3 linked regions of the Homo sapiens genome follow. The protein of the gene in region 3 interacts with the protein of the main gene of each other region in a biochemical or structural test. Each region holds a gene or a part of one and is shown on either strand. Other genes may lie near its edges.

Evidence for each region.
Region 1: of the proteins of EIF4ENIF1 (region 3) and PASK, one has a biochemical effect on the other in vitro, tested with the Homo sapiens proteins (one study listed by IntAct).
Region 2: the proteins of EIF4ENIF1 (region 3) and LSM14A are reported together in a solved structure, tested with the Homo sapiens proteins (one study listed by BioGRID).

What each region holds. Positions count from the first base shown.
Region 1 is NC_000002.12:241,131,004-241,141,491, forward strand, and holds part of PASK (PAS domain-containing serine/threonine-protein kinase), read right to left. Parts: intron 9,751-10,488; coding exon 9,518-9,750; intron 9,053-9,517; coding exon 8,882-9,052; intron 7,792-8,881; coding exon 7,651-7,791; intron 7,085-7,650; coding exon 6,950-7,084; intron 6,262-6,949; coding exon 6,001-6,261; intron 5,037-6,000; coding exon 4,868-5,036; intron 2,835-4,867; exon of another isoform or gene 2,427-2,834; coding exon of another isoform or gene 2,279-2,426; intron 2,028-2,278; coding exon 1,871-2,027; intron 1-1,870. UniProt on the Homo sapiens protein: Serine/threonine-protein kinase involved in energy homeostasis and protein translation. Phosphorylates EEF1A1, GYS1, PDX1 and RPS6.
Region 2 is NC_000019.10:34,166,458-34,177,343, reverse strand, and holds the start of LSM14A (protein LSM14 homolog A), read right to left. Parts: upstream 4,841-10,886; 5' UTR 4,702-4,840; coding exon 4,581-4,701; exon of another isoform or gene 3,872-4,580; intron 1-3,871. UniProt on the Homo sapiens protein: Essential for formation of P-bodies, cytoplasmic structures that provide storage sites for translationally inactive mRNAs and protect them from degradation. Acts as a repressor of mRNA translation. May play a role in mitotic spindle assembly.
Region 3 is NC_000022.11:31,456,869-31,467,356, forward strand, and holds part of EIF4ENIF1 (eukaryotic translation initiation factor 4E transporter), read right to left. Parts: intron 7,100-10,488; coding exon 6,813-7,099; intron 6,266-6,812; coding exon 6,064-6,265; intron 1,783-6,063; coding exon 1,607-1,782; intron 1-1,606. UniProt on the Homo sapiens protein: EIF4E-binding protein that regulates translation and stability of mRNAs in processing bodies (P-bodies). Plays a key role in P-bodies to coordinate the storage of translationally inactive mRNAs in the cytoplasm and prevent their degradation.

The sequences.
Region 1 (10,488 bases), on a different chromosome or scaffold from region 3:
AGAAGGCCTGGAAGGCTCTAACTGCTGACTGCGGTCCCCTGGGGGAAAGAGTAGGATTGGAGGAGGGGGATTGGAAGACGGCCAGGGGAACTATTGCTTTTACCATTATTCTTCTATAATTAAAAAAACACATATGCATGTATTACATTTTTTTTTTTTTTTTGAGACGGAGTCTCACTCTGTCGCCCAGGCTGGAGTGCAGTGGCGCGATCTAGGCTCACTGCAAGCTCCGCCTCCCAGGTTCACACCATTCTCCTGCCTCAGCCTCCCGAGTAGCTGGGACTACAGGCGCCCGCCACCATGCCTGGCTAATTTTTTGTATTTTTAGTAGAGACGGGGTTGCACCGTGTTAGCCAGGATGGTCTCCATCTGCCGACCTCATGATCCACCCACTTCAGCCTCCCAAAGTGCTGGGATTATAGGCGTGATCCACCGCGCCTGGCCCATGCATTACATATTTTTAAACATACATACATACTTTATATGTATCTATTACATATTTTTTAAATAATTTCAAGACTAGAAAACACAACTATGTGGATAAATATCACAGACACAGCAATAAGCAGAAGGCAGACAGAAGGAAATGCATGCGTCAGGCTCAACGGCAGGCAGTCTAACCTCTGCCCTGACCCAGGGCAGCAGGGTGTAGGGGGCACAGTGCAGGAAGGGACCCAGGGTCTGCAGGCAGCCAAGAAAGGGTCCTGGGCCACCTGGGCACCTACAGTTTGGGCACCTTTACTGCATGCTGTGCATAAGAAAAGATTCTGGGTCAGGTATGGTGGCTCACACCTGTAATCCCAGGACTTTGGGAGGCCAAGGCGGGTGGACCATGAGGTCAAGGGATCGAGACCAGTCTGGCCAACATAGTGAAACCCCGCCTCTAGTAAAAATACAAAAATTAGCCGGGCGTGGTGGCAGGTGCCTGTAGTCTCAGCTACTCAGGAGGCTGAGGCAGGAGAATCACTTGAACCAGGGGGCAGAAGTTACAGTGAACCAAGATCACGCCACTGCACTCTAGCCTGGGCAGCTGAGTGAGACTCCATCTCAAAAAAAAAAAAAAAAAAAAGATTCCGAAGAAGAAAATGGGTTAAAAATACACACACACGTGCTATGTACAATACGACTATGAGAATAGAACAAGTTTTTATTTCTACTTTTCCAAATGTTCCTAATTCTCTAATATAAACTTTCTTTACTCTAAATAGAATATTTTAAAATGTGCAAAGAGAACAGCTTCATATGACTTTGAAAATGATAAAATTAATCCCAGCACTTTGGGAGGCCAAGGCGGGTGGATAACAAAGTCAGGAAATCGAGACCATCCTGGCCAACATGGTGAAACTAAAAAAAATACAAAAAAGTAACCGGGCGTGGTGGCGGGCGCCTGTAGTCCCCAGCTACTCGGGAGGCTGAGGCAGGAGAATGGTGTGAACCCGGGAGGCGGAGCTTGCAATGCAATGAGCAATGAGCTGAGATCGCACCACTGCACTCCAGCCTGGGTGACACAGCGAGACTCTGTCTAAAAAAAAAAAAAAAAAAAAAAAAAAAGAAAATGATAAAATTATGATTCCATCAGTTCTCTGAAATCTACCTCAACATTCTGGAACTCTCCACAGCCTGTTTCCTTATCCCTACAGTGAGACAGTAACACCATGGTGCCCTCCCATACAGGCTGATAAGGACTCAGCCAGGCAGCACAGAAAACCCAGCAGTCAGTGTGTGTGGAAGAGAGCAGGTGCTCAACACATGTGAGTTTTCAATGTTACTATGAATAATAGGCTGAACATTTCTCTCTGACTTGTTCCTCATTCACCTACCATCTGTCTGGACTTTTAGTAAACCTGCAACCTCCCACCAAGGGACTTACCCTGGAGCAGGCTGAGGTGAGAGGCAGGAAAGGAGCTGGCCTCCAGCAATCAGCTCAGTCTGAGTCCCGGTGAAGATGTCTTGGCTTTCCATCAGCTTCCGGATCTCATCTCGGGGCACAACGTGGCCACCAGCAAGCACGACATTAATCCTTGGATCTGGCAGCAACACCAAAAAAGAGCGTTTGCTCTTCACAGGCACTCCCTAAAACGAATCTGCTCATTCGCCTGGAACTCACTGAGACTGCTTCACAGCATGACCAGCATCGACCACCTCTCACCACCCCAGGCGTCCCAGGTCCAACCCAGCGCCCTCTTCTCTGCCTCCTGTCTCCCTGCTCCTTGGCCCAGGACACCTGCAGCCAGCTACCATGATCCTATTAACACCCAAGTCAGAGCACGGCACTCACCTGCTGACAACCCTCCAACAGCTCCCATCTGACTCTGGATAGAAGCCGAAGTCTCGGCCATGGCCCCCCAACTCTGTGGCCTCACTCCTCCAGGTCTCTCCACCTGGCCTCCCTGCCATATCTGAAGTATTAGAGGCCTTGGGATCATGGCTCCTGATCCCAGAAATGCTGTACCTGGGTATCTACAAGGCTTCCCTAGGCCTCCTGGGACCCCAAGCCTAAGACTGCATGCCCTCTTCCCCTCTTTGCCTTCCTCCCGAGCTCTGGCCACTTCCTGGGCTCCATGTCACCTGGCTCCCTCCAGTCCCCGTGAGCGCAGGGGCATCTGCACGCAGTGCAGCCTGGCACGTGGTAGGGGATGAATGTATGTCTCTTGGTTACATGAGAGAAAGCAGCCTGCATTAGGAAGGACCCTGGGAGGCCACGCACAGTGGCTCACACCTGTAATCCCAGCACTTTGGGAGACCGAGGCGGGCAGATCACCTGAGGCTGGGAGTTCGAGACCAGCCTGACCAACATGGAGAAACCCCGTCTCCACTAAAAACACAAAATTAGCCAGGCATGGTGCTACATCCCTGTAATCCCAGCTACTCGGAAGGCTGGGACAGGAGAATCACCTGAACCCAGGAGGCAGAGGTTGCAGTGAGACGAGATGGTGCCACTGCACTCCAGCCTCAGCAACAAGAGCGAAACTCTGTCTCAAAAAAAAAAAAAAAAAAGGACGACCCCAGAAAGAACCCTAGCCCCAAGCCGAGAGAAGCCTGCTCTGTGACCAGGACAGTTGGGTGGTTCGGCATAACTTCTCCAAGAGGCATTTTTGACAGTAACTAGCAAACGTGTTCATTCCCTGAATCCAGAAGTTCCACTTCTAAGAATTCATCCTAAGGAAACAATGCGAGAGTAACAGAAATGTGATCCCCTCCCCCCACCACCAAATATCCGACAAACAGCATGTACTCAACACAGGCATGCATGCACAGGTCAGAATTTGGAATTCTGGAAAAAGGGGAAGGGGAATATAATTAGTGCTAGAGGAAAAAGCTTGTATAAAGGACAGACTGAGATAGAAAAACCCAGATACAATGAAGGGAACCACATGCTAAGGAAAGCCGGGATTGTAAGGAGAACCAACAGCCTAACAAAGTATCTTTTAAAACAAATGTTACAATCCAGCTTCTAATGCCCCAGGCGAGACCCTGTGGGGAAGGAGGCTGGGCGCATGTGCCAAAGAACTCACACAATGCCCAGACAGCTAAAGAGTGTCTGACGGTAAATGTTTATCTCACCAGGCTGGTCAGTCTCGTGAAGCTGTAGTTTTTCTCAGTGACTGTATTAAATCCACTTTCGCACTCATTCGATACCCGAGTGACCGCATGCAGGACAACCTCGCAAGCCAGCACCTGCCGACCCGCCTGGCCCCACCACGATGCAGAGCCCCGAGGTGGCTGTGCTTTCTGCCAGCACTGGCCACTCTCTCTCTCTCACCCCCACTGTGTCCTTCCATAGAACAGAGACCCCCCCACCTGACACCCCTGCCACACCATCACCTGGACCCTTGGGCCCCAGCCTGCCCCAGGAACTCCAGAACCACACCCAGTGAGCCCACGCTCCAGGTGGGCAGAGGCCCTGGAGGCAGAGTTCCGGGGTCCCCACCAGGGCAGAGCCAGGGACAGGGCGCACCCCCACCCCATGCTTGTCAACAAGAATGAGCACTGTGGAAGCAGCCAGGGGCCTGCTCCTTACCAGGAGCTCAGGCGTGGGCCCTGCCAGGACATCAGCGGGTTCTACTGCCCCTCATTGCTCCCAGCCAGAGTGGGTCCCTCGGGACAGGAGGCAGTGTGCTCACCCTGTCTTCACAAGCCACACACCTAAGACTGTGCATATGAAAGGGACTCGGAGTATTTGTTGAAATCATTTAAAATGTTAAATTAAAACTATGTGGGATAAACATAATTAAACCAGGAAATACTGGTAGAACATTCAATTTAGGAATTGCAGTCAACCCTCAGTACACTCAGGGGATGGGTTCCAGGACCCCCAGAATGCCAAAATCCGAGCACCCTCAAGTCCCACAGCCCACCCGTGGAACGCAGGTGCATGGAAAGTCAGCCCTCCATATACGCCAACTTCACCTCCCACCAGTACTGGATTTCTGAGGTTGAAAAGAATCTGTGTATAAGTGGACCCTCTAATGTCAAACCCAGTTGTTCAAGGGTCAGCGGTAATCCGATATGCTACATGGCTTCACTTAAACTACATGAAGCTATATAAGTTTACTTAGAAAAGACAAGACGGTCAGTTAGCTGTGTCTCGGATGCTGTGTCTCGGATATCATGGGCACTGGTGATGCACTCTTGGGGGGTTTTCTATTCTCTTCTCTATGCTCATATGTTTATAAGAATATGTCACAGCCCCCGAGACAGAGAGGAACATCAAACCAGAAAACAGTCACCCCCTACTCCGCCCCCCACCACCCCTGAGCCTCTGGAGGGACAATAGCTCCTGCTCCTCCCAGCCCTGTCTCAGAGGCATGGGGCTGTCTGGGGCTCAGCAGCTACAGGCGCATTCAGGAGGAAGAGGACGTCTTACCCTGGCCCCCCTCAGCTGGGTCCTGGCCCTGCCACGGGTCCAAGGTTCTCTCCCCACACCCACTCTCATTGCCGACGTCCAGGCAGCTGGCCAGGTCTGGGAGCTGTAATGAGCTGTTGTACGCAAGGTCCATGTAGCTGTAGAAACCAGGAATCAGGAAAGTGATATTCTAGAAAACAAAGCAGGGACATTTCAGAACCTGGAGGATCCACGCTGACCCACTGGACCGTCCCCCTGGGGGAGGAATGAACACAAGGAGAGCCAGTCCCTGAGGGTTCACCCTTAAGGTCAGGAAAGGCCTCGGGCCAAATGCCCTTCGACGCACCTGAAGCCCCTCAGATGCTCAACATGTGATCTGTGATTTTCCCCTTAAGAAAAAGGTAAAAACATACTCTGCGGCAAGTTACAGTGACATCGACACATCTTTGGAGCAGACATCTGGCCTTTGGCCCCATGTTTAGATGGATCTGGGAGCCTGTGTTTGCAAGCCTCACCTCACGCGGCTCACTGGTGGCCGGAACAGTGACATGCACCCAGGACAGAAGGACTGTGGGGCCTTCCTCCCAGGCCAGGAGCTGCTCTGACAGATGCTTCCTCTGAACCTGTGTGTGGCCCCCTCACCGGGACACTGCCCATAGCTGTAATGCCAGAACCCGCTCTAACCTCACAGAGGGCACAAGTGTCCATGCCCCCAAAATCCCTGCAAGGTCTCAATGCCCTCAGCTCCTGTGGGAACCCCTCATCCAGGAAGAACACTAACTGCTTTTTAACTAACTTAAATTTAACGTAACTACAATTCAGCTTAGCTACTTTTTAGTATTTCTACTAGGGTGAGAAATGAACCCCCGCAGTTGTGTCGTAAACCCTGGTCCATCAGTCAGACCAGATCTCTCAGGGCTTCGAAGCACAGTGCTCCTCTCCCTCCGACGGTGGTTGCTGGGGAAGGGTGGAGAGGAAGGAGCTTGGCAGCCATGAGCAGGGACCTCCCTCCCTGGACCCAAGGTCCTTCCTGGGTAAAGGAGCGAGCTGGAGAGCTTGCCGGGTGCGAGGCCTGTGCCACACGCAAGCCCGCACTGCAGAGCACAGCAGCTTCCTCCCAGGGAACGGGAGCCAGGCGCCCAGGGCAGCCCCACCTTGCCCAGGAGCTCCGTCTTTCCGTAACCAAACAGTGTCAGCGCGAAGCTGTGGTTGATGCCGTGGATGGTCCCATCCGGCAGGAGGGTGATGAGGCCACTGATGGTGCAGAACACCCAGACAGATGCCCGGTAGCCGCTCACAGGGGCCGCCTCACCGGTGGTCGCCTCCTCGCTGCTGGGTTGGGATTTCAGCTTTAAGCTCAGAGGGAAGGTGGTACCGTCCCTGGCTCTTCCAACAGACCTCTGAATCTTGAGATTCTGAAAGAAAGGCTTGTCGTTTGGCTTAAGCCGTGTTTCACGTGGACAGAGCACTGAGTCTGTGCTGCGTCCGACCCGACTTCTACCCCACGTCATCGGGGAAGGTCCCCAGGACATCTCACACCCACACTGCTCTGCCTTCCCTCTCCTCCCAGGCCCAGCTGGCCCAGGAAAGAGCCCTTCTGTGGGTGGGGAGGACTCAGTGTCCAGAGCCGCCCCAGGCACAGCAACCCCAGGGCAAGTGAGACACCCCAGTGAGGGGCCGGGCACCAGCAGGGAGGGAGGGAGGGAGGACTGTGGGGCTCAGGCTCGGGGCTCAGCCACGCCACTGGCAACTGTGCCATCCTTGATCTGGCACCAGGATACTGGCCCCACAGGCAGCACTACACCAGCTGCGCAGCTGTGGATGTTACCTCCCACCCCTCAGCCTTGGGCAGCGTCCCAGCATCCACCTCTGTGGGTGGCCCAGCTCCTGGGAGAAGACTCAGGGGACAAGAGTGGTCAGCTGGGAGACCACATAGGCTCCGGCCCTTGGTCAAGGCCTCAGCGCACAGGAAGCTCAAAACTGAGCATGTCCCACCCCTAAGGCCACCCTTGCCTTCAGAAACCCTTGGTCTGCGTCTCCAGTTATGGATTCAGAGCTAAGAACTCCACCCCATCACACAGTGCGGGAGGTCAGGAGCCCTACCTTTGGGATGTGCTGGCCAGAAGGAGGGAGCTGCACAGAAGGGATCAGGTCTGTGATATGCTGCCCAGCCACGTCCTCCCCAGACACGTACCCGTGAAGATGAGCAAAGAGACTGTCACATGACGTGACGGTGCCCTGGAGGAAAAGCCCCGTGCTTATCATAAAAGCTTCTTGTGCTCCAGCTGTAAATTTAACTAAGCTTCAATATGTTCAAGCCAAAAGCAAGACCCCAACATGACTTCTCCATCGGAAGGGCAAGAGACATATACACATGAATTTGATAAGAGCTTCATCATCTGTCTCCTTCTACCAGAGACGTACCTAAATTGTGGGCCTTCTTGTTCTTCAGGAGCCTGGCCCACACCACAGCTCATTAATAACATCCCAGTTCACATATGAGGGCTGTCTCTAATGCCAGCTACTATCCTGGGGGGTTTACATATATTATCTCATTTAAATGTTGAAACAATCTTATGAGGAGTTATGATTATGCCCCAGTTCACAGGTGAGGAACTGAAGTATAGGAAGTTCGTTCCCTGCCCAAGCACACGCAATCAGCGAGGGTACCACTGGGCAGACCCTCCAGGCTCCTCATCCTCTCTTTCTTCCCAAAGGAATGAGACAGGGACCAGCACTTGCTGAAGAGGAGAACGACGCCGGCTCCAGCGTCCATGAGACATGAGGCAAAGTTGCACACTCACATCGCTCTGGAAAGCGACCCAGGTCGAGACCCTCTCCACGGGCTCCAGGACCACCACGCAGCATAGGCGGCGCTCCTGCCGCATCCTCTTCATCCACACAGACACTGGAATCTTCTCCCCACTACGGCTGATGATGTCCACCTGTGGAAACAGACAGGTTCACACCTGCATGCCATGAACCCAAAAGACCAGTATGGGTGGGGCACCTGCCTCCAGGAGGCCCAAACTCCAGGCACTGCAACGTTTTCAACTTCTGCTTACCTGATTTTCATTTCAGAAATTTACCAAAGCACAAACAAGATTTCCCATACTGAACATTAAAATCTCCAAGTGCAAGTTTTATCAAGAGAGTAGATTTCATTCTCAGTTCATGGTAATATTGCAGGGTGAAAAAAGCAGTATCTGTTATTTCTTAAAGAAACAGACACCAACACATGGTGAATATCTTAGTTTTTTTCTTCTTAGTAGTCAGTTTCTTGAACCAGTGATTTTCTGATACAATTGGTCCTAAGCCTGTGACATCAGTTCAGTTCAAGCAATGGGGTCTTCTGTGTGAAAGCCACACACTAGGTGGGAAACAGGCAACCTGGAGGATCTGGATGACTACTAGAGCCTCAGATCATACCCCAACCTCCACTGCCCTCCAACGCTACTCCCCCAGTCCCCGACCGGCTGACGAGGGGAAACCCTACAATCAGCCATGCCTTGGGCTTTTTCCATGCCTTGGGCTCAGTCCTCCACATCCAACTCAGCTCACCTGTCAACATCCAGGTTGGACACATGGCACAGGTGAGAGAATCAACACTGTCTAGGGAAATGCTTCCAGGCCAACACCCCCGCCCGCTCCCACAAACACCAAACAGAATGTAAAAATCAATAGACAATAAAACCATATTACTCTTGAGCATCTGATGTGCTGCCCGGCAGGACTGCAAAACATTAGTGAAGCTACAGCCCTCAGACAAAGCAAGGGCCACCCACGACACCTCCCAGGAGTCCAGCCACAGCCACAGTGTCCATTCCTGCGATGATTCGTTCTTAAAGGGCCCCCACCCCCACTGCAGCTGAAGCGGGGAAACGGCGCCTGGGATGACATTTTCAGCTGAAGAAGCTGAGATGTCCTGGTGCCACCCAACCCCCAGCAGAGCTCCTGGTAGGGAACACTGAGCTGTTCCTGCCACACACTGCTGGTCTTGAGGCCAGACTGAACGCTGCACCCGCATCCACTCACCACCGTGCCAAACACCACCGCAGCGTGGCCGTCGGCCTCCATGTGCTCCTCGCTGAGGGCCTCCACCACATCAGAATCTGACCTCAGAAAGAACTGCGTGAGCTTCTGGCCAATCAGGTCCTGGCTGCTGTACCCCAGGAGCCCGCAAGCTTTGTCGTTAGCAACCAGGATCTGAGGAATCACAAAGAGGAGCAAGGATGCAGACATCCCCAGCAGCTCCACCAGCTGCCCAGAACAGCCCAGGACGACCATGCAGAAGCCAGCCTTTTCCTGACAGACAGGGTCTCACTCTGTTGCCCAGGCTGGAGTGCAGTGGCGCAATCAGAGCTCACTGCAGCGGCGCAATCAGAGCTCACTGCAACCTTGAACTCCTGGGTTCAAGTGATCCTCCTGCCTCAGCCTCCCTGGTAGCTGGGACTACAGGTGTGTGCCACCGCACCTGGCTAATTTCTTTGTAGAGATGGGATCTTGCTATGTTGCCCAGGCTGGTCTTGAACTCCTGGGCTCAAGCAAACTTCCCACCTCCCGAAGTGCCCAAATGTTTTTCTAATTGCATTAAAACACACAAATCCCAGGTTTAAGGCACAAACCACAAATCCACATCTACACAGCTGGATCTAAAAGAGAAGCAAATACCTCTGTGGTCTTGGCATCCACCGTGAAGATGGCCTTGTTAGGGTTGCACACAGGGGCCGGAAGCAGAGGTGAGGACCACCCTGAGGACAGTCCCCGCAGCAGGGAGCAGCAGGACACACTGCCCCGCGGTTCGGACGGGTCCGTGTGCTCAGGGGCAGCAGGGCAGTGCAGTTTACTTGTACAAATATTCTGGGCAGCCAGTGATGATAGACAATAGGAGCTCCATCTGTCTTCTGAAAAGAGAAGCGAAGCGAAGCTTTAGACTTCACACAGCTGCCAGAGTCCACCTTCTGAAACAGGCAAAGCACACAGCCCTTGCCCTCAACTCCTGCAAAAAGATCTAAGGATTAAGTCAGTCTGCACAGCTAACACACACTCTCACTGCGTGTCTGAACATGGTCCCCAGAATCCACTTAGGCAACCACCAGGTCCACTCGGAAGCACAAACAGCATAAGATCAACACTTCTGTGTCTAAATTACACTCAAAGCCAGGCGTGCCTATAATCCCAGTTCTTTGGAAGGCTGAGGCAGGAAGGTTGCTTGAGTTCAGGAGTTCAAGACCAGCCTGGACAACACAGCGAGACCCTGTCCCTACTAAAAATAAAATTTGTAAAAATCAGTTGGGCATAGTGGCGTGCCCTTGCAGCCCCATCTACTCAGGAGGCTAAGGCAGGAGGATTGCCTGAGCCCAGGAGTTTGAGACTGCAGCGAGCTATGACTGCGCCACTGCACTCCAGCCTGAGCAACAGTCAGACCTTGTCCCAAAAAACAAAAAAGCTTAATTACACTCAAAGGTTCCTTCCTTCCCACCTTCTGTCCTCTGTCAGTCATTCCAAGACCCCATGGCCACTCCGGTGGCTGCCCCGTCACCTCCTCCTTGGAAGCGTTCCTACGATTCAAGAGCTCCTTGTGCAGCGTTCTCTCAGCAACGCCTCCAATGGCTCCCAAAACCCTCAGCCCCGTCATTCCT
Region 2 (10,886 bases), on a different chromosome or scaffold from region 3:
GCATTATAAACGTCAATGTGAAAAAGCAAAGCACAAAAAGGTTTAAAGATAATCAAAGTATCTCTATGATGTTTTAAAAAAAGAAACACTAGCCATAAAAAACTGATGAACATGTTTACATTAAAATGAAGAACTTCTGTTAATTTAAAGAAACTACTAAATGGAAAAAATGTTTGCAATATATACATCCAACAATGGAGATATATTCAGAATACAGAACTCTAGAAAAAGACGTGTTTCGATTTAAAAAAGGAAAAGATTTCAAAGGCATTTTATGAAAAATGAAATCCAAACACCCAGATATGAAAAGCTGGTCAGCCCCATTTAGTAATGAGGGAAATGATTAAAACTAAATACAACTACATACCCACCAGGATTGGCTAGAATTGAAATATATGATACCACGTACGGTTGTTGGTAAGGGATATGAAACAAGAACTCTTACATACTAATAAATGAAGTAAAAACCACTAAACAACTACTTTGAAAAACTACCTGGCATTACCTGATAAAGACCAACATTCCCCATGTTCTTGCAATTCAAATTCTAAGTATATAATCTCAAGAAAACGAAATAAACATGCACCAGTGCACTTAAACAGAAATGTTCATAAAAGCATTGTTTATAATAGCCCCAAACTGCAAACAATCTAAATGCAATATCCAAAACAATGGCAGAAGGAATAAACTTGTGTTATATTCATGATGGAATATTATGAAACAATAAAAGCTAAAAATAAAATATATACAACACAATCCTATTTACATAAAGTTAAAAATGGGCAAAATTAAACTCTATTATTTAGAGATGTAAACTTATATGGTAAAACTATAAATGTCAGAAGAACATTTATATCTAGCTTAAATTAAGATGGTGATAGTTGTGATGGGAAAATATAGGTGGTGGGAGGCTTCTGGGATGCTGGCAATGTCTGTCTTGCCCTGGGTGGTGGTTACAAAGATGTTTGTTTAAAAATATTTCATTTTTATCTTATGTATCTTTTCAGCCTGTGTAGTTAGGTTTCCCAATAACACTCTCCCTGAGAAATTAAAAAAAAAAAAGTTCAAAAGAGAATGCTAAGACTGTTACTCAAAGAGATTAACTCTTAATCCATAGTTTAAAAACAGTAACAGGGATCTCTACATCCAAATACACACTGTATTATAAATTCCATGAATAAACTTTTGGCTTCAGGCCGGGTGCAGTGCCTCACACCTGTAATCCCAGCACTTTGGGAGGCCAAGGTGGGTGGATCATCTGAGGTCAGGAGTTTGAGACCAGCCTGGCCAACATGGTGAAACCCCGTCTCTACTCAAAATACAAAAATTAGCCAGCTGTGTTGGGCGCCTGTAGTCCCAGCTACTCGGAAGGCTGTGGCAGAACTGCTTGAACCCGGGAGGTGGAGGCTGCAGCGAGCCAAGATCGCACCACTGCACTCCAGCCTGGGCAAGAGCAAGACTCTGTCTCAAAACAACAACAAAAAAAAACGAAAACAAAACAAAACAAACACTTTTGGCTTTAATCTTTTAGACTACCATTCTTCGTTCAAATTTTGAAATGGAAGGTGAAATTTTCTGATATCGAATTACTCAACAAGTCATGTAAATTTTAAAATTTTAAGATTGAACTCCTTGCTTCTAATCTTGAAATCTGAAATGTGTCCAGTATTGACTAGACAGTTATAATGTAGTTTTCGATTAGATAATATCATGTAGACTAATATATAAAGGTTTGATAATGTCAGTTTTTGCGAACATAATCAAATTCCCCAAACTGGTTACACATTTAACTCATGTTGCTTAAGAAAAAGCAGCCGGGTGCGGTGGCTCATGCCTGTAATCCCGGCATTCTGGGAGGCTGAGGCAGGTGGATCACTTGAGGTCAGGAGTTCAAGACCAGCCTGGCCAATATGGTGAAAGCCTGTCTCAACTAAAAAATACAAAAATTAGCCAAGCGTGGTGGCACGCGCCAGTAATCCCAGCTACTCAGGAGGCTGAGGCAGGAGAATTGCTTGAACTTGGAAGGCAGAGGTTACAGGGAGCCAGGATTGTGCCACTGCACTCCGGCCTGGGCAACAGAGTGAGACGCCATCTCAAAAAGAAAAAAAAAAAAGAAAAAGAAAAAGCATATAATGATGTGGGATGAAATATCAAAGCCATGAGTACAAACATAAATTCAATGATTAAAAAAATTTTTCACTGCTATATTCATATATTTATCAAGTCATGACACAAAGAACAAATTTATATTTTATGTCATTATGTCATATGAATTTAACTATTACAGACTAATGAAATACTGACTCTAAAAGCTGCTGAAAAGTTTTTTAAAATGTGGGTTGTTAAAATGTAGACTTTTGGGGTTCCTGCATAAAAGGATATGTTCGTAGTTTTTAAAAAAGAACAAAAATACTTTAAAATTTTCAAATGTATTTTTTTTCTTTGTGAGGAATAAAGGTAACACAGCCAACTTATTGAGTCACTAAGCTGGCAAGACACTTTTAAATTCAGATTAGGTAAAGCAATACTTTAAAACAAATTTATTAAACCACTTTAATGAGAAATTATTTTCAACCCATATCTGGCTCTCACCCAGCACTTTTCATAATTTCATAAAGAGAGGCTTTTTCATAATTTCAAAAAGCCAGAAAAACACTATACAGCTAAGTAACTATTGTATAAAAAATATAAAAATAAATTCAAAATAAGGCCAAGCAAAAACTAAGTTACTTAAGAAGCATCACTGGGAAAGTCTTTAATAAACACCAAATACCATCCATCATACATCCTATAGCCGATTTCTAACCGCCAAGTCTACAGGTGTTTTAATGAGGTAATGTGTCACTGCATAATGTTTCACAAGGTGAAGAGGGAAATGTGGGGGTACTCCCTGGTTTTTCATACTACTTTTAAAATTAGACTTGGTGATTTTAAAAAGTGTATAATTCAATGATCTTCAGCAAATTTGCAGAGTTGTGCAACTATCACCATCTCATACTACTCCTTTATGGTGTACAGTTCTGTAACATCAAAAGGTTCCCTACCCAGGTATAAGATTTGTCCCAACACCAGGGCTATTAAAAAGATTTACCAGAGGCTGGGCGCGGTGGCTCATGCCTGTAATCCCAGCACTTTGGGTGGCCGAGGCGGGTGGATCACCTGAGGTCAGGAGTTCGAGACCAGCCTGGCCAACATGGTGAAACCCCGTCTCTACTAAAAATACCAAATTAGCTAGGGGTGGTGGCAGGCGCCTATAATCCCAGCTACTTGGGAGGCTGAGGCAGGAGAATCACTTGAACCCGGGAGGCGGACGTTGCAGTGAGCCGAAATCATTGCCTTTGCACTCCAGCCTGAGCAAAAAGAGCTAAACTCCATCTTAGAAAAATAAATAAATAAATAAATAAATAAAGGATTTACCAGAGCATCCAAGAAATATTATTAAATACTTGATCCCGTGAAACCACTCCCCTATCTGTTAACGATTTTTAAAATTTTACAGATTTCGAAAATCTTCTTCTTTATCCTTGGACCTAACCTATCCACAGGGTCCCTAACCATGCTATGCAGTTCCCACCTCTACCAGAAGTGCTGGGAAAATCACCTAGGTTATCTAGCTTCCCTCAAAGTATTTTACACTGTTGTGAGATTTCCTTTAAGATTCAGGAGCTAAAGTTTATTTTCTTTCTGGTTTCCTGGCGGAGCAAAGGCCCTGCACGTGTGAACGGAAACAAAACCCACACAGACTCTAGGGATGCCAAATATTAACACTGTGGGTAGGGGCACCTTCCTTCTCGGCCGAATTCCCTTTCCCAGAGAGCCTCCAGAGGGATCAGTCAACGCCCACTGAGCCTGGATCAAAGGTCAAGCTTGCCTGGTCAAGAAGGATCCTGGATCAAGCTTGAACCCGTTTCCAGAAACAGGGGCGTCGGGGCAGCAGCAAGCATTTTTACCACGCGCCCTAATGAGGTGGTTGCACAACAGGCTTTGAGGATTCCGGTTTAACAGGTAAATACCAACAGAGGATGAGCCGAGGGAGATGGGATCTGCTCCACGGCATCGATGGCATTTCGAGAATGTCTGCGTCGCAGAGCAAACCCAAAGTTTTAGCACATTACTCAAGAGTTCACCAGAGGAAGATCGCCACGAATTGAAATGAACAAAGTGAGAAAATGGGTGCTGTGTAGTCAACGCATCCGCGATGAACTCAAGCTGGGCGGAAAAATTCTTTGAATACTCCGGCTTTGTTTTGTGCTAAGACGGCAGAAGCCCCGAATTTCGGAGTTGGAAGACGCGTTTCTCCGTGTTCTCCGGCCCGTTCTCGGACTTCAGGGCCGCCCGCCGCGCACTCAGTCCCGTAGTTCCCCGGGCTTCAGGCGCGGACATTCCGGGGGGCGGAAACCAGGGAGCCGCGGGGAGGCCGCGGTCCGGCCCGCGACGCCGGGGCCCGGAGAAGGGAGGCGAGAGGCCTCCCGGAGCTCGACGGAGGGAGGGGAGGGAACGAGGAGGCCGCGGGCCGGAGCGGGGAGCAGCCCCGAGCGGCGCCCGGCTCGGCCCCCACCCTGAGGCCCGGTCCCGCGTACCTTTGGCAAGGGCTACGGTGGAGTTTTCGGTGTCGATGGTGTAGAGGATGCCCTCGTAGCGGATCTCCGCCTTGGAGATGAGGCTGATCTTGCTGCCGATGTAAGGGGTGCCCCCGCTCATGGCGCCGCCGCCGCCGCTCCCAGCTGCTCGCAGAGAGGCAGATCCCACGCCACTGTCGCCCGCTCCGCACGCCCGCTCGCTCCGTCGGCGCCTACAGCAGCCGCTTCAGACCCAACATGGCGGCGGCGCCGGCTCCGCTACCCTCCCCCAGCCTCCCGCCCTCAAGCCGCGGCGCGGCGGCGGCGGCGGCGGCGGCAGCGGCGGCGGCGCGGGGCATGCTGGGAGGGCGAGGCCGCGCTCTCGCGAGACTTGGCCGGCTACTGGTGGCTCCCGGCTCATTCGTGGCCTCGGGAGTCCCGGCAGCGCTTGTTGGCCTGGACTACGGTGGTGGTCTTGGGGCCGCGTGAGAGGAACTTCGGGGACCGGCTGAGTGCCTCGTGGCACCCGCTTGCTGCGGGCTGGAGAGGAGGCGCGCGGCCTTCCTTTTGACTCAGGCCGTGGCCGCCTTGTCGTGGGTCCTGTGTCTTTGCCGACGCGGGGCCCTCGGCCTGGAGCGCTGCCCACCCGCCTCCGAGCTGTGGCGAGCCGCTGCTCATCCTTCTAAGACGCTGAACCTGCACCTCGTGGAGCTCCTACGGCTCCATTACCGCAGTCATCGCCCGGGGAGCTTCCCCCGAGGCTGCCCCTGGAGCTGGGGCTCTCACAAGGACTCAAGTGTTTCAGCCCCTTCCTGTCCCGCTCATTCAGCCGGTCTGAACCAGTTTCATGGCTTGCAACGCCATTGTAACTCACTAATCCCAATTATCAGTATGTAGCTTGGATCAATTCCGTGAACCAGGGTTTCTGTCGAATCTCAAACGTTAAGGGTCCAAAGCCATGCTCCCTGTTTCCCCTCTAACCTGCTCCTTCACCACCGTTCCCTATTTGATGTAAACGGTACCATTTTTACTCAGCTGCTCAGACTAAAAGCCGTGAGTCAGCCTTGCCCTGTCTTGCTTCCACATCTGTTCTGACTACACCTCTCCGTTATGTATACACAATATATCCTAAATCTGACTTCTCATCTCCATTCCTACACTTCTCCCACAAGCCACGATTACTCGGGCTGAATTATTGCAGTAGCCTTCTAAAAGTTGCCTCTGTGTCAACTCTTGCCCCCAGTACTTTATTCTCAATACAGCAGCCAGAGAGATCTTCTTAAAATCTAACTCAGGGCTGGGCGCAGTGGCTCACGCCTGTACTCCCAGTACTTTGGGGGCCCGAGGCGGGCGCATCACCGGTCAGGAGTTCGAGACCAGCCTGGCCAACATGGTGAAACCCCGTCTCTACTAAAAATATAAAAAAATTAGCCAGGCGTGGTGGCGCGCGCCTATAGTCTCAGCTACTTGGGAGGCTGAGGCAGGAGAATTGCTTGAACCCAGGAGGCGGAGGTTGTGGTGAGCCGAGATTGTGCCACTGCACTCCAGCCTGGGCGACAGAGCGAGACTCCGTCTCAAAAAAAAAAAAAAAAATCTAACTCAGATCATGTCCTTCCTCTACTCACTCTACTGATCCCATGTTACACAGAGAGAAAACCAGACTTTGGTGTCTAAGGATATACATGATTTAGCTTCTCGTTCTGTTCCAGTCGCGTCTAATTCAACCAGTACTTGAGCACTTTATTCCAGTCTCTGCTCAAGCATCACCTCCAGAGATGACGTCCCTGACAGCCTTGTTTAAAATAATACCACTCATCTCCTTAACTCAGCTTGTATTTTCTTTATAGCATGTATCTCTCTCAAGTATGTCTGTTTAATTATTTGTATGTATCTGTCTCCTTCACTAGAATGTAAACATTTTGAGATAGTGATGTTGTTTTGGTTGCTGCCGTATCATCAGGGGCCTAGTAACAGCACGTGGCTCAGGGCAGCTGCTCAGTTAATATTTGCTGCATGAATGAACAGCAGGATGAAGGCAGAGCACAGGCAGGACGGTGAGCTGAGTGAGCAAATGGCGAGAAGCCTGGCATCATAAGAGAGGGACACAGGAGAGAGACAGAGCTCTGATGGGGCTGGTGCACAGTGGCTACAAAGAAAGGTTTGGAAATCCCTGTTTCAGTACAAGGTCCATGCGAGGAAGTTGAATTATTTGTTTTTGTTTTTTTGAGACAGTCTCACTCTGTCACTCGGGATGGAGTGCAATGGTGCCATCTCGGCTCACTGCAACCTCTGTCTCCTCTGTTCAAGCGATTCTCCTGCCTCAGCCTCCCGAGTAGCTGGGATTACAGGCGCATGCCACCACGCCTGACTGATTTTTTGTATTTTTAGTAGAGATGGGTTTCACCATGTTGGCCAGGCTGGTCTTGAACTCCTGGCCTCAAGTGTTCACCTGCCTTGGCCTCCCAAAGTGCTGGGATTACAGGCGTGAGCCACCGTGCCCGGAAATTCTTTCAAGGCTAAATAATATCCCTTTGTATGGACATACCATATTTTGTTTATCCATTTATCAGTTGATGAACATTTGGGTTGTTTTCACTTCTGCTATTATAAATATCCATGAGTACCTCTATGAACAAGTTTTTGTGGGAACATGTGTTTTCAATCCTCCTAAGAATGAAGTAGTTGAGCCATATGGTAACTCAGAGTTTAACTTTTTGAGGAACTGTCAAACTGTTTTCCAAAGCAGCTACACTATTTTACATTTCCACTGGCAATTGTATGAGGGCTCCAATTTTCTCCACAGCCTCACCAACACCTATTATTGTCTATCTTTTTTTGTTTGTTTGTTTGAGACGGTGTTTCGCTCTTGTTGCTCAGGCTGGAGTGCAGTGGCGTGATCTTGGCTCACCGCAACCTCCGCCTCCCGGGTTCAAGAGATTCTCCAGCCTCAGCCTCCCTAGTAGCTGGGATTACAGGCATGCACCACCAAGCCCGGCTAATTTTGTATTTTTAGTAGAGTGGGGGTTTCTCCATGTTGGTCAGGCTGGTCTCAAACTCCCGACCTCAGGTGATCCGCCCTCCTTGGCCTCCCAAAGTGGTGGGATTACAGGCGTGAGCCACCGCACCCCGCCATTTGTGTATCTTTTTGAGACAGGGTGCCACTCTGTCATCCAGGCTGGAATGCAGTGGCCCTATCATGGCTCACTGCAACCTTCCTGGGCTCAAGCAATCCTCCACCTCAGCCTCCCAGGTAGCTGGGACCACAGGTGCAAACCACCATGCCCAGATAATTTTTGTATTTTTTTGTAGAGACAGGGCCTTGCCATGTTGCCCAGGTTGGTCTCAAATGCCTGGACTCAAGTGATCCTCTCGCCTTGGCTTCCCAGAGTGCTGGAATTACAGGCGTTGAGCCCCACACCCAGCTAAACACTTTTAAATTGGGCAATTTTTCTTTTTATTGTTGAGTGGCAAGAGTTCTTTTATATATTCTAGATACAAGTCCCTAATCAGATCTATAATTTGTAAATAGTCTCTCTTATTCAGCGGATTGGTTGTCTTTTCACTTTCTTGATAGTGTCCTTTGAAGCACAAAAGTTTTTAATTTTTATAAAGTCCAGTTTATTCATTTTTGTTGTTGTTGTTGTTTGCACTTTTGGTGTCATATGCAATAAAGCATTGCCTAATCCAGGATACAAATATTTACCCATAATGTTTGCTTCTAAGTTTTATGTGTTAGCTCTTACATTTAGGTCTTTGATTTATTTTGAGCCAATTTTTGTCTATGGTATGAGGGGGACTTCAAATCTTGCCTGAAATAGAGATGGGATTAAGAAGCTTTCAGATCAAACAGGAGATGGAGTGATTACAGGAGGAAGAGTGAGATGCATTCTGGAAAGTAAGCAATTCAGTGTGGCCACAGCCTAAAGAATGCAGAGTATATTAGGAGTTATAGTGGATAGCAGTGGCCACACCAAAGGTGGTGAGGGTTGAGGGCTTTGTTTCTCCCATATTGTCCAACAGCCATCCCCTAGCCTCATAAAGTAAAGACAAATATAAGGAAAAAACAGTGTACTAGCTGGGAATTGCTTTGGACAAGCCTCGCAAATCCTCCAGATCTTCTTTCTTACCCCATAGCTCCTCAAGTGTAGAAATTCTAGAGCTTCTACTGCTGAAAACATGAATGGGGAAGAATTTAGTTTTTCTGCAGGTTGCCGGGAGCTCTTAAGCAGGGAAGCAACAATGGATTTTGGATCTTTAGGAAGCCTGCGATGGTCATAAAATGTGTCACGGTTCTCAACCTTGTTTCTAGTACATGAAACGGAGATTAATGTGCATATTACACTAGGGGCTACCAACTGATCAGCTGCATTATACATAGTTCCTGCCGCCCTAGGGTGCAGGAAACCATGAGTTGCAAAACATAAAGTAGAATCTAACAGATTGGTGACTGATTGGGTGTAGCCAGATAAGGACTCCTAGTTCCAGGACTGAACACCTAGGTCAGTCCTAGGGCTAGTGATGAGCATAAGGAGAACGGATAAAAGGAAGTTTATTTGGGGGGAGGATGGAAATACTAATAGATGCAAATAATTTTGCACTTGTTGAGCTGGAAGTGCCTGTTGGGACACCAAGCAATTGCGTCTATTTCATAATTGGTATGACCCTAAAAGTCAGGAGATCTGAAATGGAGGTGTACATTTGGAAATTGTTACAGATGGAAAAAGGATAAGCTCACTGTCAGTGGCTCATGCCTGTAATTCCAGCTACTCGAGAGGCACTGCAGCCTGGGCGACAGAGCGAGACTCTGTCTCAAAAAAAAAAAAAAAAAAAAAAAAAAAAGAAACACCAAGAACAGGCAAATCCACAGAGGCAGAAAATATTAGTAGATTAGTGGCTGCAAGGGGCTGGGACATGGGGGTGAGGAGTAGGAATGGGAAGTCACTACCAAGGGGCGCAGGGTTTCTTTCTGGGGTGATAAAAATGTCTGGAAGTAGGATGGGCACAGGGGCTTGTGCCTGTAATCCCAGCACTTTCGGAGACCGAGGCTGGTGGATCGCCTTAGGTCAGGAGGTCAAGACTAGCCTGGCCAACATGGTGAAACCCCGTCTCTACTAAAAACACAAAAAAATTAGTCAGGCGTGGTGGCGCACGCCTGTAATCCCAGTTACTTGGGAGGCTGAGGCAGGAGAATAGCTTGAATCCGGGAGGCGGAGGCTGCTGTGAGCCAAGATAGTGCCATTACACTCCAGTCTGGACAACAAGAGTGAAACTCCATCTCAAAAAGGGAAAGAAAAAAGAAAATGTCTGGAAGTATATAATGATAATGGTTGCATGGCTTTGTGGATATACGAAAACCCACTAAATTGTATACTTTAAAAAGTGAACTTAGGGCCGGGCGCGGTGGCTCAAGCCTGTGATCCCAGCACTTTGGGAGGCTGAGGTGGGCAGATCACGAGGTCAGGAGTTCGAGACCAACGTGACCAACGTAGTACTAAAAATACAAAAAAAATTAGCTGGGCGTGGTGGCGGGCGTCTGTAATCCCAGCTCCTCAGGAGGCTGAGGCAGGAGAATTGCTTGAACTTGGGAGGCAGAGGTTGCAGTGAGCCGAGATCACGCCACTGCACTCCAGTCTGGGCGACAGAGCAAGACTCCATCGCAAAAAAAAAAAAAAAAAAAAAAAAAGAGTGAATTTTATGATATGTGAATTCTATCTCAAAAAGGCAAACTTTCCATGTAAAATGGCCCTATTAAAAACTAAGTTTATGTAGCAAAAACAGGCACTTGCTTTTGAAATAATATGTAAGTAAAAAAGCTGAATACAGAATTGTGTGAGTATAAAGACTTTCTTAAAAGGAAAAAAAACAAACAACATATGAAAATAAAGGAGGAAAGCAGTAATTTCCAAATGCTATGGTACCATGGTATTAGATAAAATTTTTTGTTTGTTTGTTTGTTTTTTGAGATGGAGTCTCGCTGTGTCGCCCAGGCTGGATGGAGTGCAGTGGCGCGATCTCGGCTCACTGCAAGCTCCACCTCCTGGGTTCACGCCATTCTCCTGCCTCAGCCTCCCAAGTAGCTGGGACTACAGGTGCTCGCCACCATGCCCAGCTAATTTTTTGTATTTTTAGTAGAGAAGGGATTTCACCGTGTTAACGAGGATGGTCTCAATCTCCTGACGTCGTGATCCGCCCGTCTCGGCCTCCCAAAGTGCTGGGATTACAGGCGTGAGCCACCATGCCCGGCCTAGATATAAACTTTTAAGGTAAGTTTTTGTCTCTGTATTAGTTAGGAGATGTGTTCTGTTTATAGGAACCACCCCCAAATTC
Region 3 (10,488 bases):
ATCCTTTGCCTCAGGAGTAAATCCACGTACTACCAAATGTTCTCAGAGAACAGTGTCAATGCCACAGCATTCCACTGACAAGCTGATGAGTGACCTTCAACTAAATATCAAGTATGGGGAACTGATGAAAGAAAACCATTGCTTCAAACTTAGTGGTTTCAAGGTTGTAATGAACATTATGAAATTCAATCTTGAGAGTTTCAGAAGCCAAAGGCTAAAAAAGCAGAGCTCATAAAGACTGTAATTCCAAGTCAAAGTTTAGAAAAAGTATGATTGTGGAAGATGAAATTTCAACTGATCTCTAATTTCTGTTTGAGATTAATAGAGAGTTTTCAGGTGTTTTCTGTTTCCAAATCCAACCTCCATAGTTTACATTTAATAAGGACAATTAAATAACACACTATGAACAATAAATTGCTTTGGTAGAAATTATGAAATAGTGCCAATCTTTCTTAAAAACTAGATTTAAGCATTTAAAAAATTTTTCAATTCAAATCATACCATAAATTCAGTCAAATATCCAAATTGATTTTTTGCAGTATTCTTATCAATATTTAGAAAAGACAAGATAGAGCAAACATCTATCCAAAAATCAGACATATCCTTGAAAATAAGTCATATACTTTCACGTCAATCCCACTGATAAACAGAAAACATGCTTTTTCAAAAACTGGTACATGGATGACAGAATTAGTGACTGTTTTATTTGAAATCTGGAACCCACAGTTTCCAAAGTTAAGCAGGGGAAGCTTAGATTTATTCTTTGTTCTTATCTGGAAGAATGTTTTCATAATCCATACCCAAATTAAGCCACAATATACTTCTTTTGAAGGGATTTTAATTCAAGACCCTAATTATTGTTTCCAGAATTTCTATTTTCAGAGGAATTATCTAGACAATTTCAATCACATTCCACCTGTAGATGCTCATACCTTAAATAATGCTGACTTTTAAGTGCACTAATTTTGTATTAATTAAAATATAAGATAAGCATGATACATCACTGTGAAAAATTGGGGAGTGTATCCAAAATATAAGCATCTTAGTGATAAACAGGAATTCTAAAAATAACTTTAAAAAGCCAGGTGCGGTGGCTCACGCCTGTAATCCCAGCACTTTGGGAGACCAAGACAGGAGGATCACAAGGTCAGGAGTTCAAGACCCGTCTGGCCAACATAGTGAAACCCCATCTCTACTAAAAATACAAAAATTAGCTGGGCATGGTGGCACACACCTGTGATCCCAACTACTCAGGAGGCTGAGGCAGAAGAATCGCTTGAACCCAGGAGACGGAGGTTGCAATGAGCCAAGATCGTGCCACTGCACTTCAGCCTGGGTGACAGAGTAAGATTCCAACTCAAAAAAAAAAAAACAACAAAAAAAGAATTTTTAGTCTAACACCACCAGCTTAAAAAAGAGTTAACTGGTACAAAAATCTCATATTATCCATTAAGCCTCTCAAAACAAAGCCAACAAAAATTTAAATATGTAAGAATAAAAGCCAAAAACCCCAAAAGCATCTAGCAAAACAACACTTTCAAACCGATGTCTTAAATACTCAGGTCAAATTTAACCACACATTTTTTAAGTGTGCTGCTACACTCACCGAAGCCAAGCATGGCACCTTATCAAGGTTAAAGAACTCATTAAAGTCAAAGTCTCCTGGGGACTGCTCAGGCAAGACAGCATCCCTTGGCACTTCCTGATCAGCCGCAGGCTCCTGTGCAAGGATGACCTCCACTTCATCCTCTTCGGCCACTCCTCCATTGCACTCTACTATACCTGAAAGCAAAACCAGGACAAAAACCGTCTGATAAGTAAATCACTCCAGTGTCCCTCTGTGGCTTCAGCCATCAGTATACATGTAGAAGAGCCACACATGACTTAAAAAGCAGACTTCTCGTGCAGGTACTGTACTTGCAAGAATAAAACAGTCCCCCTTCTACGGGAGGCAGAAAAGGAAAAAAGCCTTAATAAAGCTAGAATACCAATGGGATGTGGGGAGGATTATGGTTCCCTTCGTGGGAACTTCATATTTTCTATAGTGGAGGGGGGTCTTTTTTTTTTTTTTTTTTTTGAGATGGGGTCTTGCTCTGTTGCACAGGCTGGAGAGTAGTGGCACGATCACAGCTCACTGTAGTCTCTACCTCCTGGGCTCAGGTGATCCTCCTGCCTTAGCCTCCAGAGTATCTGGGACCACAGGTGCACACCACCATGCCTGGATAATTTTTTAATTTTTTGTAGAGACTGAGTCTCGCTAAATTGCACAGCCTGGACTTAAACTGCTGACCTCAAGTGATCCTCCTGCCTTGGCCTCCCAAAGTGCTAGGATTACAGTAGTGAGCCACTGTGTCCAGCACCATGCCTAGTTCTTTTTCTAGTGATTTTTTTTTTAAAGGATAGTCTTTGCAAGTCTCTTACTGCTTAAAAATGGAACCAAATTAATTTAGCTCTGCTTCTGCCCATGCACCTGTAGCACCACTTTCAGTCAGGGCTCAGCAACCTAAGGTATTTATGAGAAACCTGGCATGAGGGCAATTTTCACTTGCCTACAGGTTGGTTGTTGTAGCTCATCCTTCAAGGCGAAATTCAAATGTGACCTTCTCTGGGAAGCTTGCCCTGCCTACCCATTTTTGCCCTACCTAGTAAAATTAATTGCTACCTTCTCTATAATCCTTATGTCATCTCTGAGTACTTGTCACACTGTATAATAGTAACTCTCTGGTGAGGCTAAACTCTGAGGGTAGGGAACCTGGTCTAACCAGCTTTGTCTTACTCTGTAGTGCCAGGTATACTCTACAATGTTCAGTTGTTTTTAGGATGGGGAGACAAAGTGAAACTGCCAGATGCTAACATTTAAGGCATCTGACATCTTAGTTTTTAATGTTTTTATTTATTTTAAATACATAGCAAGGGCAACCTAGAGACATTCTGTAGTTAGCTAATGGGATGAACCAAGACCCCTGGATTCTACTCCAGGCTCTGCCATGAAATCCATCCCTTCTCTCCAGGTCTCAATTTCTCTCTGCATCTGTAAAATAAGGAGGTGCCACTACCAATCTATCTCACTCCTGACTCCTGCACTTGATACAAGAATGGTTGAAATTCAGATTTCACCTCACTTAAGAAAAACATAATTTTTTCTCACCAGAAGCCTGATCTTTATCGTTAAAGTGGTGCTTTATTGGGTGCTGCTTTAATTAAGAATGAGACAAAGACATATCTCAAAGCCAATTTAATAGCAAAGTCTTCCAAGTTACCTATCAATTTCTTACATTATCCTAGGGAACACTGTGTGATAGCACAAAGATAATGGTAATATGTACTATATTTTGAAGACTACAAAAGAAGATGAGTATTTTGATTCTCCATTTCCTTCTCCTTCTAAATAAATGCCATCAGCTTATTTCTGCTTATATTTGTCTTCATCAAAATGTTAAGGTGGCACTGATTTTTCCCTTATTTATTAAAATAGCTTTCCCAGACCAGGCGCAGTGGTTCACGCCTATAATCTCAGCACTTTGGGAGGCTGAGGCAGGTGGATCATGAGGTCAGGAGATTGAGACCATCCTGGCTAACACGGTGAAACACCATCTCTACTAAAAATACAAAAAATTAGCTGGGTGTGTTGGCACGCGCCTGTAGTTCCGCTACTCCGGAGGCTGAGGCAGAATTGCTTGACCCTGGGAGGCGGAGCTTGCAGTGAGCCAAGATCGCACCACTGCACTCCAGCCTGGGTGACAGAGCGAGACTCCGTCTCAAAAAAAAAAGAAAATTAATTAAAAAAAAAAATAGAGGACTGGCGCAGTGGCTCACGCCTGTAATCCCAGTACTTTGGGAGGCTGAGGCGGGTGGATCACGAGGTCAGGAGATCGAGACCATCCTGGCTAACATAGTGAAACCCCATCTCTACTAAAAATACAAAAATTTAGCTGGGCGTGGTGGTGGGCGCCTGTAGTCCCAGCTACTCGGGAGGCTGAGGCAGGAGAATGGCGTGAACCCGGAGGCGGAGTTTGCCGTGAGCTAAGATCGTGCCACTGCACTCCAGCCTAGGCAACAAAGCAAGACTCCATCTCAAAACAAACAAACAAACAAAAAACAAAAAAAAAGGCTTTCCCCTTTTGTTGCCTAGTATCTGCCAAAAGGCTTTCAACTAAGCCTGAAAGCTTGAGGCAGGTAGAATTTACTGAGTGCCTTCTTGGAGGCTGAGTTCTGATGGGTACATGTGTTCTTCAATGCTAAAGGTAACCCTTAAGTTATGATAGGCATTGTTCTTCCCTTTACAAAGAAACAGGCCCAGCTGTCAAAATTTTGTCAAAAATTATCCTTTTCTAAGCAGGAGCCCTAGTACTTTAACCCAGGTTAGTCCCCACCTGGCTCTACAGTGCCTCCTTCCCAAGACCATCAGCCTGGGACTGGCCACCTTAGAGCCAGGTCACTGCCCTAAAAAATGATTGGCTGCAGACCAATGGGCTCCCACTCTGCAGCAGGTACTTCACACACATTAGCTCTGGCTCCTTCAGTTTAGCAAGGGAGATATCTGACCCCATCTTACAGCTGAGGAAACTAGGTTTTTTTGGTTTTTTTGGAGACAGAGTCTCAACTCTGTCTCCCAGGCTGGAGTGCAGTAGCACAATCTCGCTGCAACCTGTCTCCTGGATTCAAGCAATTCTCCTGCCTCAGCCTCTCCAGTAGCCGGGAGTACAGGCATGCGTCAACACACCCAGCTAATTTTTGTATTTTCAATATAGACAGGGTTTCACCATGTTGGCCAGGCTGGTCTCAAACTCCTGACCTCAAATGATCCACCCGCCTTGGCCTCCCAAAGTGCTGGGATCACAGGCGTGAGCCACCGTACTCATCCTGAAACTAAGTTTGAGAGAAGGCAAATCACAAACAACTGACCTGGGAAGGCCTAATACCATGATGAAGAAGGTAGGCTCTGATGCCCAGAAGCATCTTGCTTTACTCTTGACTTCACTACTTATTTCCATGGTGACTACCTTAAGTGTCCTTGAGTTACTTAAGCCCTCTGAGCCTCCATTTGCTCATCTATGAAATGGGCATAAAAAAGTACCTACACTGCACAAGGTCATTAGGAGATGAAGGATTACACAGACAAAATACACTCACCACTGTGTTTAGGACATAATTGCTCAATAAATGAGACCTCTCATTTTTCTACCACGTTTCTTATTTCTGGGGAACTCTTTCATGTACACAGTCCTCTTACAGGATAACTTCAGACTTTTCTGTTTAGTGTGGCAGGCAGAACGAGTTAGGGAAACAGTATGATCTACACTTAGTGAATCCTCACTTAAGCAGTTGCAGGGGCTGGGCATGGTGGCTCACACCTATAATCCCAGCACTTTGGGATGCCGAGGCGGGTGATCACCTGAGGTCAGGAGTTCGAGACCAGCCTGGGCAACATGGTGAAACCCCATCTCTACTAAAAATAGAAAAAATTACCCAGGCGTCATGGCAGGCACCTGTAATCCCAGCTACTCGGGAGGCTGAGGCAGGGAAGAATCGCTTGAACCAAGGAAATGGAGGCTGCAGTGAGCTGAGATGGTGCCACTGCACTCCAGCCCGGGCAACTGAGCGAGACTCCGTCTCAAAAAAAAAAAAAGATTTCAAAATCAGGATGCATCATGAAAAACTTGCCATTTCCTATACATCTGGTGCCCATTCCTAAGTGTACAATTAGCCAGTGATAATCACATCTCTATTTTATTTTTGAGACAGTCTTGCTCTGTCACCCAGGCTGGAGTGCAGTGGTGTGATAGCTCACTGCAACCTCTGCCTCCCAGGTTCAAGCAATTCTTGTGCCTCAGCCTCCCGAGTAGCTGGGACTACAGGCACCAGCCACCACACCCCACTAATTTTTGAATTTTTGTGGAGACGGGGTTTCACCATGTTGGCCAGGCTGGTCTCAAACTCCTGACCTCAGGTGATCCGCCCACCTCGGCCTCCCAAAGTGTTGGGATTACAGGTGTGAGCCACCACGCCCAGCCTACATCTCATTTTAAAACAGCGAACTTCCCTCCCAAAGTTTGAACTGACCTTCCTTCACAGAGGCTGTCCGTCGCCTTGTTCTTTTTCTCCCTTTGTGATCTTCTTCTAGTATCTTATCATCAAAGCCAGTCAGTTCGATGGTTTCAGACTGACTTGTGGGTCCAGCAGAGAACCACTCTGGTTCTTCTTCTGTGTAAGAATCATTTCTTCTACGCTCACCAAAGACACGCTTACTATCTCCAAACTCTCTCTGGAAAAGTACATAAAGCAAGATTAAAAAATTTCTAGTCAAGCCATTTCTACTTCAGTCAAGGTCTTCGTTGTAATGTTCAATAGTGAAAGGAAGATATGATGCTGTATACCTGAGGCCCATCACCACCCCCACCCCTTCCTCCCTGACTGGTTTAAGAGCAGGCTGTGTTCATGCCTGTTCTCAAAGTAACCTGGTATAAAAAAAGTGAATATCAAGTCCCCAAGCACATGAACTACCAAAGAATCTAGAAGACAAACCCAGGTCGGGTGTGGTGGCTCACGCCTGTAATCCCAGCACTTTGGGAGGCCGAGGCAGGCCGATCACCTAAGGTTGGGAGCTTGAGAGACCAGCCTGACTAACATGGAGAAACCCCGTCTCTACTAAAAATATAAAAAGTTAGCCGGGTATGGTGGTGCGTGCCTATAATCCCAGATACTGGGCTGAGGCAGCAGTGAGTCAAGATCGTGCCATTGCACTCCAGCCTGGGCAACAAGAGCGAAACTCCGTCTCAATTTAAAAAAAAAAAAAAAAAAAAAAGACAAACCCTGAAACGCTTGTCCTTGAAGTCCCTCTCTCGGTCTCTGTCTCTCAAGTCCCGCAGGTCCTTATCGCTAAGACGGTGATCCTTCTCAAAGGTCCGGGCAGAGATTATCCTCCCACTGCCAATCCTACGTCCACCAAGCAGACGAAGCCCATCACTATCTTTCTCTAATGGACTTCCTGAGCGCCGGGAGCTAACAGCGGCTGTCACGTGGCAGCCCCCTCCAAAGCTCCGTCTCTGAGGGCTGAGAACAACATCTAAGTCATCTTCTTTCACACGCTCTCGTGGATCTGGAAGGACGTGGGAAAGACAAAGTTAAACAAACCAACAAGGGTGTTTTCTTCTTTTTTAGATAGTATGTCCATGACTGATGGGAGGAAGGGGATGGTTGGAAGAGAGTCACCACTAAAATTGGGCTTATCAGCAGATTCAGGGTAACATGTACATTATGTATTTAAATAAGGCTGAGACATTGGCCTTCCTCTTTGCAGCAATAGAAGTACGTCACGATAAATAATTTTCCATGATTAGTCTTTGCAGTGCCTTTATTTTGACCAAATCCTTATCTAAGAATTATTAGCAAATGTTTTGTCAACTAATAAACTACAGCAGGCGTATTTGAAAAAATAACTGCTTAAAAAGTTAAAGTGTCTCTTCAACAAAATGGTGTTGAACGGTTAGATATCCACAGACAAAGAAATGAACTTAAATCTATATTTGGGGCCGGGCATGGTGGCTCACGCCTATAATCCAGTACTTTGGGACGTCAAGGCAGGTGGATCACGAGGTTAGGAGTTCAAGACCAGCCTGGCCAAGATGGTGAAACCCCGTCTCTACTAAAACTACAAAAATTAGCCAGGCATTGTGGCAGGTGCCTGTAATCCCAGTTACTTGGGAGGCTGAGGCAGGAGAATCGCTTGAACCTGGAGGCAGAGGTTGCAGTAGCAGAAGTCACCCCGCTACACTGTAGCCTGGGCAAAAGACTAAGATTCAGTCTCAAAAAAAAAAAAAAAAAAAAAAAAATATATATATATATATATATATATATAAACAGATATATACAAAAATTAATTCAAAATGGATCACAGATCTAAATGTAAAACCTAAAACTAAAAATTTCTAGAACAAAATATAGGAGGAAATCCTTGTGGCACTGGGTTAGGCAAAGTTTTCTTAGGCATGACACCAAAAGCATGATCCATTTAAAAAACACTGATAGACTGGGCTTGATCAAAATTTAAAACTTCTACTCTTTGAAAGACACTGTTTAGAGAATGCAAAGACAAGCCACAGACTGAGACAAAATATTTCAAAGCATTTTTCTGATAAAGGACTTAAATTCAGAACACATAAAATCTCTTAATAAACCAACCCAGTGGCTCACGCCTGTAATCCCAGCACTTTGGGAGGCTGAGGTAGGTGGATCACCTGAGGTTAGGAGTTCGAGACTAGCCTGACCAACATGGTGAAACCTCGTCTCTACTAAAAATACAAAATTAGCCAGGCGTGGTGGTAGGCACCTGTAATCCCAGCTACTTGGGAGGCTGAGGCAGGAGAATCGCTTAAACCTGGGAAGTGGAGGTTGCAGTGAGCTGAGACTGCACCACTGCACTGTAGCCTGGGCACCAAGAGCCAGACTCTGTCTCAAAAAAAAAAAAAAAAAACCAACACAATTGAAAAATAGACAAATGGTTTGAACAGACACTTCACCAAAGAGGTTATGTGGAAGGCAAATAAGCATATGAAAAGATACTCAACATAATTAGTCATTAGGGAAATGCAAATTAAACCATGTGATACTACTACACGCCTATTACAATGGCTAAAATTTAAATGACCATTCCAAGTGCAGATGAGGATGTTGGAGCAAGTGCAACTCTCATACACCACTGGTGGAAACGTAAAATGGTACAACTACTTTGGAAAACAGTTTGGCAATTTCCCAGAAGGTTAAACATACATCTGCTATACAACCCAGCCATTTTAATCCTAGGTTTTTACCCAAGAGAAAAGAAAGCTTATGTCCAGAGACTTGTACATGAATGTTCATTGCAGCTTTGGTTATTTAACAGTCAAAAACTGGAAACAACCCAAATGTACATCAACAGATAAACGGATCAACTGCTAAATCCATACAATGGAATACTATTAAGCAATGAAAATAAACTAGACACTCAACAACGTGGATAAATCGTAACTATTCTTAATGAAAAAAGCTATACAAGGAGTATATACTATAGTAACTCCATTTATATAAAATCCTAGGAAATGTAAACTAATCTATAGAAACAGAAAGCAGATACAGAAAGCAGATCAGTCCGGACACTATGGCTCATGCCTGTAATCCCAACACTTTGGGAGGCCAAGACAGGTGGATCACCTGAGGTTGGGAGTTCAACACCAGCCTGGCCAACATAGGGAAACCTTGTCTCTACTAAAAATACAAAAATTGGGGCCAGGCACGGTGACTCATGCCTGTGATCCCAGCACTTTGGGAGGCTGAGGTGGGTGGATCACTTGAGGTCAGGAGTTTAAGACCAGCCTGGCCAACATGGTGAAACCCTGTCTCTACTAAAAATACAAAAATTAGCCAGGCATGGTGGCGCACGCCTATAATCCCAGCTACTTGGGAGGCTGAGGCGCGACAATCGCTTGAACCCGGGAGGCAGAGGTTGCAGTGAGCCGAGATCGCGCCACTGCACTCCAGCCTGGGTGACAGAGCAAGACTCTGTCTCGGTGGGGGGAAAAAAAAATTAGCTGGGCACGGTGGAACGTGTATGTGTAATCCCAGCTACTCAGGAAGCTGAGGCAAGACAATCGCTTTAACCTGGGAGGCAGAGGTTGCAGTAAGCAGAGACCACGCCACTGTACTCCAGCCTAGGCAACAGAGGGAGACTCTGTCTCAAAAAAACAACAAAAAAAAACAAAGCAAATCAGCGCTTGCTTGGGAAGGGGGAAGTGTTGTGGGGGGGGCAGCTAAAGGGAGGGACACATAGGAATACTAGGGAACTTTTGGGGGTGATAAAAATGCTTATGTTGATTTTGGTAACGGTTTCACAGGTATATACACATGTCAAGACATCAAATGGTATACTTTTTGTGCAGGCTATATGTAAATTCTATCTCAATAAATTTATTGGTGTAGGAAGAACAAACATGTCACCATACAAAAAATGTCTTCCTAGAAAAACCAGGAAACTGAAGATTAGTCCATGTGAGAAAAATCTGCTTTAATTCTGTTATCACAAACAGCTCCTAGAATGTTCTGTTGTGTACTTTTACAGAATTTCTGTGCAGTCTGTTTTTTCCAAACACAGGATACAATATGGAGAGTTTTCTATGAGTCAGTACGTCATGAACATTATTTGCCAATAAACACATCTGCAACATGGTTTTACAGGACAATGCAATGTAACATTCCCATATATGGATACACCGAAGTTTACGCGACCCATTTCTACTGTTGGATATTTAGGTTCCTTCTCAGTTTTCATCATTTTAATAAAGTCTCTGCATATCTTTAATGATTCTGCTAGAATAAATTCTTTGAGAGACATTACTGTACTGAGTGTACTGACAGACTGTGTAGAAGGGTCTTATAGCTTAAACTAGAGCCGGGCTATCTTTTTCGTTTAGTTCCAAGTTTTTATGATGAGTCGTCCTCTCATCTCAAAAAAAG